Homo sapiens: one gene and its partner. The protein of the gene in region 1 purifies or fractionates together with the protein of each later gene. This does not show direct contact. Each region holds a gene or a part of one and is shown in the gene's direction. Other genes may lie near its edges. The genes, in order: BRAT1 and USP48.

Evidence for each region.
Region 2: the proteins of BRAT1 (region 1) and USP48 purify together in Homo sapiens (affinity purification with mass spectrometry; 2 studies listed by BioGRID, with this or other methods). This does not show direct contact.

Annotation. Positions count from the first base shown.
Region 1 is NC_000007.14:2,538,401-2,545,681, reverse strand, and holds part of BRAT1 (integrator complex assembly factor BRAT1), read left to right. Parts: intron 1-625; coding exon 626-773; intron 774-1,719; coding exon 1,720-2,092; intron 2,093-2,358; coding exon 2,359-2,478; intron 2,479-3,470; coding exon 3,471-3,562; intron 3,563-3,845; coding exon 3,846-3,964; intron 3,965-4,197; coding exon 4,198-4,384; intron 4,385-4,629; coding exon 4,630-4,703; intron 4,704-4,787; coding exon of another isoform or gene 4,788-4,911; intron 4,912-5,774; coding exon of another isoform or gene 5,775-5,793; coding exon 5,794-5,896; intron 5,897-6,039; coding exon 6,040-6,138; intron 6,139-6,330; coding exon 6,331-6,503; intron 6,504-6,737; coding exon of another isoform or gene 6,738-6,917; coding exon 6,918-7,281. UniProt on the Homo sapiens protein: Component of a multiprotein complex required for the assembly of the RNA endonuclease module of the integrator complex.
Region 2 is NC_000001.11:21,677,751-21,682,383, reverse strand, and holds the end of USP48 (ubiquitin carboxyl-terminal hydrolase 48), read left to right. Parts: intron 1-1,549; coding exon 1,550-1,576; intron 1,577-2,944; coding exon 2,945-2,967; 3' UTR 2,968-4,086; downstream 4,087-4,633.

The DNA of each region.
Region 1 (7,281 bases):
CCTGTCTCTACTAAAAATGAAAAAATTAGCTGGGTGTGGTGGTGGGCACCTGTAATGCCAGCTACTCAGGAGGCTGAGACAGGAAAATAGCTTGAGCCCAGGAGGCAGAGGTTGCAGTGAGCCGAGATGTGCCACTGCACTCCAGCCTAGGCAACAGAGTGGGACTGTCTCAAAAAAAAAAAAAAGAAGAAGAAAGTGTCCTCCAGAAGTATCTCCACCAGCCCTGGAAAACTGAAAACCCATCTCTGCTTTGCTCCACATCCCTGGAAACCTACCAGGTCCCCTCACCTCTTTTTTTTTTTTTTTTTTTTTTTTTTTGAGATGGAGTCTCGCTGTGTCACCCAGGCTGGTGTGCAGTGGTGCGATCTTGGCTCACTGCAACCTTCGCCTCCCGGGTTCAAGCAATTCTCCTGCCTCAGCCTTCTTAGTAGCTGGGATTACAGGTGCATGCCACCACACCCAGCAAATTTTTGTATTTCTAGTAGAGATGGGGTTTCACCATGTTGGTCAGGCTGGTCTCGAACTCCTGACCTCGTGATCTGCCCTCCTCGGCCTCCCAAAGTGCTGGGATTACAGGCTTCAGCCACTGCGCCTGGCCACCCTCACTTCTTTTTTTGCTTCCCAGCAGGGGGAGTTACTACCAGGGCTCTTTGGGGAGCCAGGACCCCTCGGCCGAGCAACCTGGGCCGTCCCCACCGTGCGCAGCGGCTGGATCCAGGGCCTGCGCTCCCTGGCACAGCACCCCAGCGCCCTGCGCTTCCTGGCCGACCATGGTGAGTGCGCCCACACCCCACCCCATTCCTCATCCTGCCTGTGTGATCCCAGGGAATTCACTGCACCTTGCTGAATCTGAGTGTCTGGTCTGTGCGATGTCTCAGGGTTGTTGCAAAGACTGCACTGTGACAGTACGGCTGTCCAGTGTTCTCTGGTTGGCAGGTCAGGCCCTAGGAGCCAGGACGGCTTTCTCAGCCACTTACAGATCAGCCGTGAGGACTCAGTCTTTGAAACTATTTGGGAGCCAGGCGTGGTGATGCGTGGCTATAGTCCCAGCTACTCGGGAGGCTGAAGCAAGAGGATCACTTGAGCCCAGGGGTTCGAGGCTACAGTGAGCAGTGGTTGAGCCACTGCACTCCAACTTAGGCAACAGAGCAAGACCCCGTCTCAAAAAAACAAGAAACGAGGCTGGGCACGGTGGCTCACGCCTGTAATCTCAGCACTTTGGGAGGCCGAGGCGGGTGGATCACCTGAGGTCAGGAGTTCAAGACCAGCCTGGCCAACATGGTGAAACCCTGTCTCTACGAGAATACAAAAATTAGCCGGGCATGATGGCGGGTGCCTGTAATCCCAGCTACTTGGGAGGCTGAGGTGGCAGAATGGCTTGAACCTGGGAGGTGGAAGTTGCAGTGAACTGAGATCGCACCATTGTACTCCACCCTGGGCAACAGAACAAGACTCTGTCTCAAAAAAAAAAAAAAAAAAAACAACAAGAAGGAACGAATTGGGAAGCATCACAAGCTGTGTGTGTTTAACGCTCGGGGGGAGGAGGTGCTTGTCTCCAGGGAGCTTCAGTTCCTGTTCTTTTTTGCTTTTGAGTGGAGAGGCATTTGGGGGCATCTTGGGGGGCCCTCTGCTATTTGTATCTTCCCTGAGGCCCTCTGCCTCCCCCAGCTCTATTCTGGCTCACCCCCTTTTCCCTCTCTTCCCCCATCCCCTACCCAGGTGCGGTCGACACCATCTTCTCCCTGCAGGGAGACTCCAGCCTGTTTGTGGCCTCGGCGGCCAGTCAGCTCCTGGTGCACGTCCTGGCTTTGTCCATGCGAGGTGGAGCCGAGGGGCAGCCCTGCCTGCCGGGGGGTGACTGGCCCGCGTGTGCCCAGAAGATCATGGATCACGTTGAAGAGTCCTTGTGCTCCGCGGCCACCCCCAAGGTCACTCAGGCCCTGAACGTCCTGACCACGACCTTCGGGCGCTGCCAGAGCCCCTGGACGGAAGCCCTGTGGGTGCGGCTGAGTCCCCGCGTGGCCTGTCTGCTGGAGAGAGACCCCATCCCCGCCGCACACTCGTTCGTGGACCTGCTTCTCTGTGTGGCTCGGTCAGGGCCCCGGGACGCAGCTGGGGGGCCTGGGTGGGCAACTGTTTTCCTCGGATAACGCCCAGGGATGTCCCACTGGCAGCCGGAGACTCTCTGAGGACATGGCCTGCAGTGAAGCGGCACCGGGGTGACCCTGGAACCCTCATGGGGAAAGGCCTGTCTTGGGCTGGGCGCCTCCAGTGCCGGAGCCATGGCAGTCTCAGCCAGGCCTCGAATGGGGTTTTGAGGGTGGGGGAGTAATTTTTCTCTCTGGGGTCTCCCTGCAGTTCTCCCGTGTTCAGTTCTTCCGACGGCAGCCTGTGGGAGACAGTGGCGCGGGCTCTGAGCTGCCTGGGTCCCACCCACATGGGACCCCTGGCTTTGGGGATCCTGAAGCTCGAGCACTGGTATGGTCTGGGGTGCATTTCATTCCGAGGCGGGTGCTGGGAGCTGGGGCAGGCAGGGAGGTTGAGAGCGCAGCCCTCATGGCAGGGGAGTTCCGGACACCAGGGACAGTCAGGCGGCCGTGCGGGGTGTGACTGGGTGGTGCGTGGGTTGCGCGCGGCAGCTTCTGAAGGTTCTTTAGCAACAGAATAATTGTTTCAGACCAAAGCTCTGCGAGATCCCCAGAGGTGAGAAGGATGCGGGAGCTGCTCTGCTCAGAGCAGGGTGGTCCTGCCGACGCCCTGCGCTCCGCTGCCCTCCCACCTGTCCCCCACCGCAGCTTTGGTTGGGGGTTTCGGAGCTCCCCAGCACACACACCATGCGGGTGGGGGGCCTGGGGGCGGTGCAACGGCAGAGCCTGGGGTCAGGACAGGTGGGAAGGCCGTGGATGGCCTGCCAGTGTTCCAGGTGGGCTCACAATAGGGGTGGAAGTGACCTCAGGACCTGCTGCCCACAGGGCCCAGGGGTACCATGAGGGTCCAGCTCTGAGCTCCGGGGTCTCCGAATGTTTAGGAGAGAGTAGACCGGGGGAGGATGGAGGAACAGGCCCGGCCCTGCAGGAATGCATTGTGGGGACACTGCCTCCACCTAGGCCCAGACGTGAGGGCAGGTCCCTCCCACAGAGTGGACGCTGTACACACCTGGGGGCACCCCATCCCTGTCCCCCTGAGCGGGCACTGCCCCTCTCTCTGGGTGCATGGCCAGGCCCTCCTGGAGGCCCCTCAGTATCTGCTCCTAAGGACATCAGGAGTGTCAGGCCCATCTCCTTGGTCAGGCCTGTCCTCCCCGCCACTCTGTCCCATGGCATCCCCTGGCCAGTGGCCTGCAGAGAATGTTTCTCGGGGGGTGTCCCAACCCCCTGGCTGATTTGCCCCAGGCTTGCTGGGGACATTAGGAGCACAGCCAACTTGTCTCGCAGCCAGGGTCGCGGCACTCACCTCGCGTTTGTCTCCAGTCCACAGGCACTGAGGACCCAGGCCTTCCAGGTCCTTCTCCAGCCCCTGGCCTGTGTCCTGAAGGCCACGGTTCAGGCCCCCGGACCCCCAGGTGTGCTGCTTAGAAAGGGCTGGGAGGGCAGAACCTGGGTCCCTGCGGCTGGGGGAAGGGAGATGGATGAGAGTAGCTGGCTCGCCACCCCCGCCCCACTTTAATCACACCCAGGCCTCCCTCCAAGAGCAAAGGGGACCGGGGACATGGCCATCTCCCCTGGTGAGCTGCTGCTCTGCACCTAGGTCCTGGCCTGTGCTGTGGGTGGTGACCGTGGGGTGGCTGGTGACCGTGGGGAGGCTGAAGTGCTCTCTAAGGGAGCTCTTCCTGGCTTGGCCCCCAGGCTTGCTGGACGGGACGGCAGACGATGCCACGACGGTGGACACACTCCTGGCCTCCAAGTCGTCCTGCGCCGGCCTCCTGTGCCGCACCCTGGCTCACCTGGAGGAGCTGCAGCCGCTGGTAGGTGCGGCCCGGTCCTCATGCAGCCCAGCAGCATCCACGCTGGCGGTGGGACCGCAACGTAGGCTGACGCCCCCCACCCCTTGCTGCCCCAGCACCCTTGCATCCACGCCAGCAGTGGGACCACAACCTTGGCTGATGTCCCCCGCCCCACATGCCTCGAAGTCCCAGCACCCCTGCATCCACGCCGGCAGTGGGACCGCAACCTTGGCTGACGGCCCTCTTCCTCGCAGCCCCAGCGCCCTTCACCGTGGCCCCAGGCGTCTCTACTGGGGGCTACAGTGACTGTCCTGCGGCTCTGTGACGGCTCGGCTGCCCCTGCCTCCAGTGTGGGGGGCCACCTCTGTGGGACCCTGGCGGGCTGCGTCCGGGTCCAGCGAGCAGCCCTCGACTTCCTGGGGACGCTGTCACAGGGGACAGGTGAGTGTGTTCTGTACGGCTTTGGCGTGGGGCTATCCCTGTGCCCCCACTCTCCTTTCTGCTCGGAGGCACCCGGGAACTGCTGTCCCTCTCTGTTTCTTCTCTGGGGTGGGGGCTGAGGGGTGCAGGGGCCGTGCAGGAGGTTTCAGCTGGCGGATGAGGCCTTGTTCTGCTCCTTCCCAGAGTTGATGGGGAGGGTCCTAGGGTGGGGGTGGGGGTGGTTTATCCACTCACCTCTGTCTCAGGCCCCCAGGAGCTGGTGACGCAGGCGCTTGCTGTCCTCCTGGAGTGCCTCGAGAGCCCCGGCTCCAGCCCCACGGTACGGTGGTGGGGATAGAGAGCGAGGAGAGGAGGGAGGCAGAGGCAGTGGGACCCACCCCTGACTCCACCCCGTCCCGTGCAGGCCTCTGCGGATGGGGCCTTCACACAGGGCCACAGAGCTGCTGCTCAGAGAGCTTCACGATGCAGGTGGCTGCATGGGGCGGGCCCAGGGCCTCTTGTTGGTGAAGATACATCAGCACGCAGGGGTGTGTGGGGCCGTGGGGAGCAGGGGCACTGGTCAGGCGGCCTGCGGGGAATTCTGGACAAGGGAAATGAGGTGGCACCAAGACGGCCCTGGGCGTGGGCTTTGGGTTCTCCTAAGCGCCATTTGTGAATGTGCCTACTCCACAGCCCCTCACGGAGCTGGGCCCTGGCAGGTACAGACCTTGTGCCACCTGCCGCTGAGCAGACAGCAGACAACTTTGGAGGAAGGGCCCAGGGCTTCTTGGGATCCTAAGGAAAAGGTGCCCTGCGTAATTGGTCATGTTTTGATGTAGAAATCCCGTTGCCTGGGTTGTGGGTCTTCTGGTGAGGGCTGCCACCACCTCCTCCTGCTCACAGTCTGGGAAGCCGGTTCTGCAGCATATTCTGCCCTATTAAAATCAGCCCAGGAGGGGCGTGGGGCTCACAGCTGTGATTACTGTGCGTTGGGGGGCCGAGGTGGGGGGATCAATGGAGCCCAGGACTTTTGAGGCCAGCCTGGGCAACATAGCAAGATCCCATCTCTACAAAAAAATAGAAAAATTAGCCCCAGGAGTATAGCTCAGGGGTAGAGCATTTGACTGCAAAAATTAGCCAGGCGTGGTGATGTGTGCCTCTAGCCCCAGCTACTCATGAGGCTGAGGCAGGAGGACTGTTTGAGCCTGGGAGGTGGAGGCTGCAGTGAACTGTGATTGCAGTCCAGCCTGGATGACACATTGAGACCCTGTCTCTAAAAAAGAAGGAAGCCCAGCGTTCCCTTCTCTCTCCACTTCCTGTCCCCATTGCTGTCCCTGGAGTACGGGCAGCACAGGTGAAGGCGAGGGGGACAGACAGACAGCCTGCCCCTCCGTCTCCCGTGGCCCTGCAGCCCACCCTATCTGCTCCAGGTTCTGAAGAAGGCCTTCCAGGCCACGCTCAGGTGGCTCCTGAGCTCACCCAAGACCCCCGGCTGCTCTGATCTCGGCCCCCTCATCCCGCAGTTCCTCAGAGGTAACGCAGCCCCTTGCAGGGGTGAACGGAGCTGGAGTCGCAGGGGTGGAGGCAGCAGGGGCTGGGTGGAATGGCTCAGCTGGCTCTGAGGGCAGGGTGAGCCTGGCCCCAAGGTCACCCTGACCTGTCCCTTCCCACCCTAGAGCTGTTCCCTGTGCTGCAGAAACGCCTGTGCCACCCCTGCTGGGAGGTGAGGGACTCCGCCCTCGAGTTCCTGACCCAGCTGAGCAGGCACTGGGGAGGTGAGTGCTGGCAGGTGGAGGGGCTGCCTTCCCCGCCTGTGGGGGGCTCACTGAGCCAGGGTGCACCAGCAGCCTCTTGCTGGCTCTAGAAACTTGGGCCATGTCGGCTGCCCACAAGGGGATGGAGGCAGAGGCCGAGGCGACAAGGCTCGGCCCTCAGTCACAGCTGCATGTGGCCGTTTCGACCCCCAGGACAGGCTGACTTCAGATGCGCACTCTTGGCTTCAGAGGTGCCTCAGCTGGCCCTGCAGCTCCTCCAGGACCCTGAGAGTTATGTCCGAGCGAGTGCAGTGACCGCCATGGGGCAGCTGTCCAGCCAGGGCCTGCACGCCCCCACCAGCCCTGAGCATGCAGAGGCCCGGCAGGTAGGAGGTGGCAGGTTCCTCAGCCAGCAACTCCCGCCTGGCCATCGTGTGTGCTCGTTTGCTTGCGGGTGGTCGAGCGGCCAGCATGCAGCGTGGGAGCAGCTGCTGCTGTGGGCAGCGCCTGCAGCAGTGACTGCCGAGGCCCTGGGGCTGTGCTGGGTGTGGGACCTGTGCGCTTCGCCTTCTGTCTCCCCAGCACCCCTCCACTTAGACATGGTTACCTCCATTTGACAGATGGGTAAACTGAGGATTGGAGGGCCGTGTGCTCACTGCGCAGCATGGGAAGGTGTCAGAGCGGGCTGTGGCCCTAGACTGCATGTCCGGGGCCAGCCCCCATCATGTACCGGAGTCCTGTTGCGGGAGCCTCGCTCCTGCCACCCCACCAACCATCCGCACTTGCTCCCTGTCCCCCAGAGCCTGTTCCTGGAGCTCCTGCACATCCTCTCCGTAGACTCGGAGGGCTTCCCACGGCGGGCGGTCATGCAAGTCTTCACTGAGTGGCTGCGGGACGGCCACGCCGACGCGGCCCAGGACACGGAGCAGTTCGTGGCCACTGTGCTGCAGGCGGCGAGCCGAGACCTGGACTGGGAGGTCCGCGCCCAGGGCCTGGAGCTGGCCCTCGTGTTCCTGGGCCAGACTTTGGGGCCGCCGCGTACCCACTGCCCCTATGCCGTGGCCCTACCCGAGGTGGCCCCAGCCCAGCCACTCACCGAGGCACTGAGGGCTCTCTGCCACGTGGGGCTCTTTGACTTCGCCTTTTGTGCCTTGTTTGACTGCG
Region 2 (4,633 bases), on another chromosome or scaffold:
GAAATGTAAAAAATGATGGTACCCTGGGTTTGATATAGTAAGTAAAAAACTAAGGGTAAGAGGGTCATGAAAGCATCTAGAAGTAGGAGGGAAAGCCAGTCAAATTCACAGGATGAAGTCAGGAAGATAATAGAGCAGTGCCCGCAAGATCCTGAGGGAAAGCAAGTTCCAATCTATAAGTCTGTAACCCTCACACCTGATGGCCCCTTGAACATATTCAGGGCTTCAAAAGATTGATCTGTCATGCACCGTCTGCCATGATACTGTGTGAGGATGTGTTCTTCTTCTTAAACATTAAATCAAGAAAGAATCAACAGTGGACCCAGTAAATAGCAGATCAGCCTAGGATAAGATGCCCTAGAAGATGGTGAAGGGAAGTCTCAGAACTACTGTTCTTCAGCAGGCAGCGAAGACACCTGATCCATATTGGAGTGGTGGGATGCGAGCTTCAGGAAGGGATGCCACAAGGAAAAGTGGAAGGGATGATGACTGTCTTCAAGAGGTTACAGGTCTTTAAGAATTTACACGTGAATTGGAGATAAATACAGAGAAAATGAAACACATCAGTAATTCAGTAGTTACCAAGCCCAGAAAGACCAAGTCATACCATGTAGTAAATATAACCAAGGTGCACCAAGGCATTCAACTGTGACTAGTATTAATGGCGTAAAAAGTAATGCCAGCGCTGGAGACTGGCTTAACAACAACAAACACCACTTCATCAGGAGGATGGGTCGGGGCAGGTGCTATGTAAGTGGTAAAACAGCTGTTTGTATCCTTCACTGAAGAATTTATTAGATTTTTATCTAAAATTATGAAGTAGGCCAGGCACGATGGCCCACTCCTGTAATCCCATCACTTTGGGAGGCTGTGGCGGGCGGATCACTTGAGGTCAAGAGTTCGAGACGAGCCTGGCCAACGTGGTGAAACCCTGTCTCTACTACAAATACAAAAATTAGCCAAGTGTGGTGGTGGGTGCCTGTAATCCCAGCTACTTGGGAAGCTGAGGCAGGAGAATTGCTTGAACCCAGGAAGCAGAGGTTGCAGTGAGCCGAGATCATGCCACTGCACTCCATTCTGGGTGACAGAGCTGGACACCCTCTCAAAAAAAAAAAGTAAATAAAATTATGAAAAGCATGTTATTTAGAAATAGGCTAAATACCAGAAGAAGCTGCTGTGTGAGTCAAAAGTGACTCCTTCCAGAACTTGGGAATGGGAGGAGGAAGGGGAGAGAGACAGCTCCAGAGGAGTCAGTTACATGGCTTCCTCCCAGGCCACTCCTAGAGTCGTGCACTAGGTGTGCCCTAGTTACAAACCTTGTCCTGTCAGTATTTGACTTTTTAAATGATGCATACGTATTGCTTTGATAAAAACAGAAACAAAGATTGTTCTGAAATTAGTAACATCCGTAACTTCAAAGATGATTATTACAGGTGACAAAGGTAATCAAAAGTTATTTTAAACTTTTGTCTTTAAGCATTGAAATGATATTACTGTCTGTCACGACAATCTTTTCAATTTGGAATTCTTCTTTTTTTCTTTTTTTCAGTTTGTATGCCAGAAGAAGGGTTTAAAGGTAAGTTACATTTGTCATGTTTTGTTCATGAATGTCAGAGTCATCCTGTAATTTTCTGTTAAAGCGAAGGCTATAATTTGATTTTAAATTTTAATCCAATCTGAGTCTCATGACTGAAATTAATTTTAGTTAAATGCATTTCTTACTCAAGCTTCTTCATTATCTTTTTCAACACTCAGGCCTCAAATGGGGCCTCAGCTGGGGCTTTTGTGTTAGAACTGTTTCTTGCCAGATGTCCATTTGGCCTTCCCTTTCTCATTTTATGGGAGGTTGGGAAATTAGCTAGTGGCATTTCAAGATTTATTTTTAACCTTTTCCCAGTTCTTCCTATCAAGTCCCCTCCTAGAGCAAAACAGTGTGTAACTATTAAGAATTAGTGGCACAAGAATTTGTCAGGTTTTATCAAGTCCAGTGAAAAGATTTAATTAATCACTTAGCATTAAGGCATTTGTTGGATTATTACTTCAAGAGGAGACACGGTGGTGCTCGTACTACATCTGGGCCATGTAGTTGTGCACACCGATAATATTCAAGAAGTCATCAAATACAGACCTCTGACGTTTTCGGATTTTCCTGTTGCTGTCTTGATTCTTTGCTGGCCACTCCAGAAGCCCCTGGCAGGTTGTGATTTTCTAAGGAATGACTTTGAATCACATACCAGCTATTCCTTGCTAAAGCAAATGAGAGACAAATCTACTGGCCAAAATAAAGTCTTCCTCTTGCTGCAGCTGTGTTGTCTGCATGCTACCATTACAAAGGGACTCCTGATGGGGTCAAAACAAAGCAAAAAACGTCTTTATGAAAAATGGTCATTGGCCGGGCATGGTGGCTCACGCCTGTAATCCCAGCACTTTTGGAGGTTGAGACGGGTGGGTCACTTGAGGTCAGGAGTTCGAGACCAGTCTGGCCAACATGGTGAAACCCCATCTCTACTAAAAATACAAAAATTAGCCGGGCATGGTGGCGTGCGCCTGTAATCTCAGCTACTTGGGAGGCTGAGGCAGGAGAATGCTTGAACCTGGGAGATAAGGTTGCAGTGAGCCAGGATTGCACCACTGCACTCCAGCCTGGGCGACAAGAGTGAAACTCTCAGAAAAGAAGAATGGTCATTAAATGAAAGAATCAATAAAATCTGGTTAGTTTGTGTGAAGATACACTTAGGAAGCACATGGCTTTCAACAAAAATGTGATTTAGCGGAGAGCCTGGAGTCTGCTGGTATTTTGTCTTATCCTCCCACACCAAGGTGCGACTGTGTTCATTTATTAAATTTGATGCTCCCTGTTGATGATGTGTTCTTGGTAAATGGAATCCATGAACTTTTAATCTGTAGTTCACAACTATCCCTCCACGTGTGTTTCTTTTCCCAGGTACTGGTCTTCTTGGACATTAATCTTTGAATACTTGCTGACTGCTAAGAAATGACCAGAGGGGAAGAGGAGTTTGACATGTTAGGGCATTAAAGCAAAGGTGGATTTAAGAATTAAACCATTACATGCCCCTTCCAAAAGGCAGAAATCCATTCAAACGTGACTGTCCCAAATGCCTTATGTCAAATAAAGCAGATTGCACTGATGGACATCAGACTTGAAGGAAATGTTTCCAATTTTATATTTAAGGGGGGTGGTGGGTGGGAGGGGGCAAGTAAAGACGGAACAAGTTTAGTAGCAGTAATAGTAAATCATGTTTACATATGAGATTTATAGTCGTGGGAGGGGAATAAAGTTCTGTTATATTTCCTTGCTCGAGTTTCATACCAGATGCGTTGGTCCATAAAGGATTGTATCAAGTAGATGGGACAACATTCTGCTCTGAACGAAAAGTAATTTTAGAGACATAACCTGCTTACCAATGCCTGTCTTTGATTCATATTCTACTTTCAATAAAGCATGAAAGTGAAGAACTTGTCCTAAGTGTGGAAAAGTGTCTTCAGATTTAGACTCTTCTCCATGTCAGCTGCAGCGCCACCCGCCTTACACCTGCCCGGCCGTCTGTCTCTTGGTATTGGGTAAAGGAGGGGGCACCTGCATGTCTCCTGCAATGAGCAAGGAATTATGTCTCATGTTTTGACTTCAGAGGCTTTTTGCTTTGGTGCATTTCAGAAAGGATGGAGAACATTTATTATGTGTGAAAGCATCCTCTTCCGGTTTTGCTGTTATTCAAAAGTGGGAAATGTACCTGGCACGTTTGAAAATAAAAAATCTGACTACCTATCAGAAGAGTAAATCAGACTGAAGTACATTTGGATAACACAAGGTTTCTATAAAATTTGTTCTTCCTGTCCTCCATGTCACTGTTTCTTGGACCTCAGTTCTCTTTTTGAAAGCATTATTCCAAAATGCCCTGAGAGGGTCTCTTAGATCATTGTTTAAAAAAGGAAAAAAGTATATGGATGTGCTGTCCATCCAACTCAGGATTATCATTCTTAGCAACACGTAACCGAAGCAATATTCTTAAGAATATTGAAGGGGTTTTTTTAATTGAACTTAAGACTGGAGTTTTTCCTTTGAAAAAAAAAAAAAAGTTTTCTCTGTTGAGTCCGTCTGTGTAAGTTTGTGGCTGAGATGCTAGCTTAGGCATCTCTCTTGTTAACACTTTTCTTGGCCTTGGGTTTGTGCAAGGCTTTTTCCCCCTTTCATGAAAATGTGAACTCAGATCATGGATGGGGAAGGCAGATTTTGATTTGAGACCCGATAACCTTGGCAGCATCCCTTTTGAATAGCTCCTTTTGTCAGAGTAATTACGGCCATTTGGTAAAATTCTAACTTCGTGTTTGTGTTTCCCCTCTGTGTTTCTAATGTCTTCAGTCTGTGTCCCCTGAGGAGGCAGGGGGTCTCTAATGAGCCTATCTATGGGGGAAGGTGAGAGCTGCACACAGCCCCCTGAGAAACCATCCTAGGAGTGGAACCAAGGGACCAACTGTTCTGGCCTTGAGGTTGGCACAGGGGAAGGACTTGAAGTTGAGCTGATGGATCCTGATTTTTAGATCTCATTGTTTTATTAGCTCCAAAGAAATGAATGCAGGAGCCTAAAACTAATAACACAAACTTCTTCTTTCC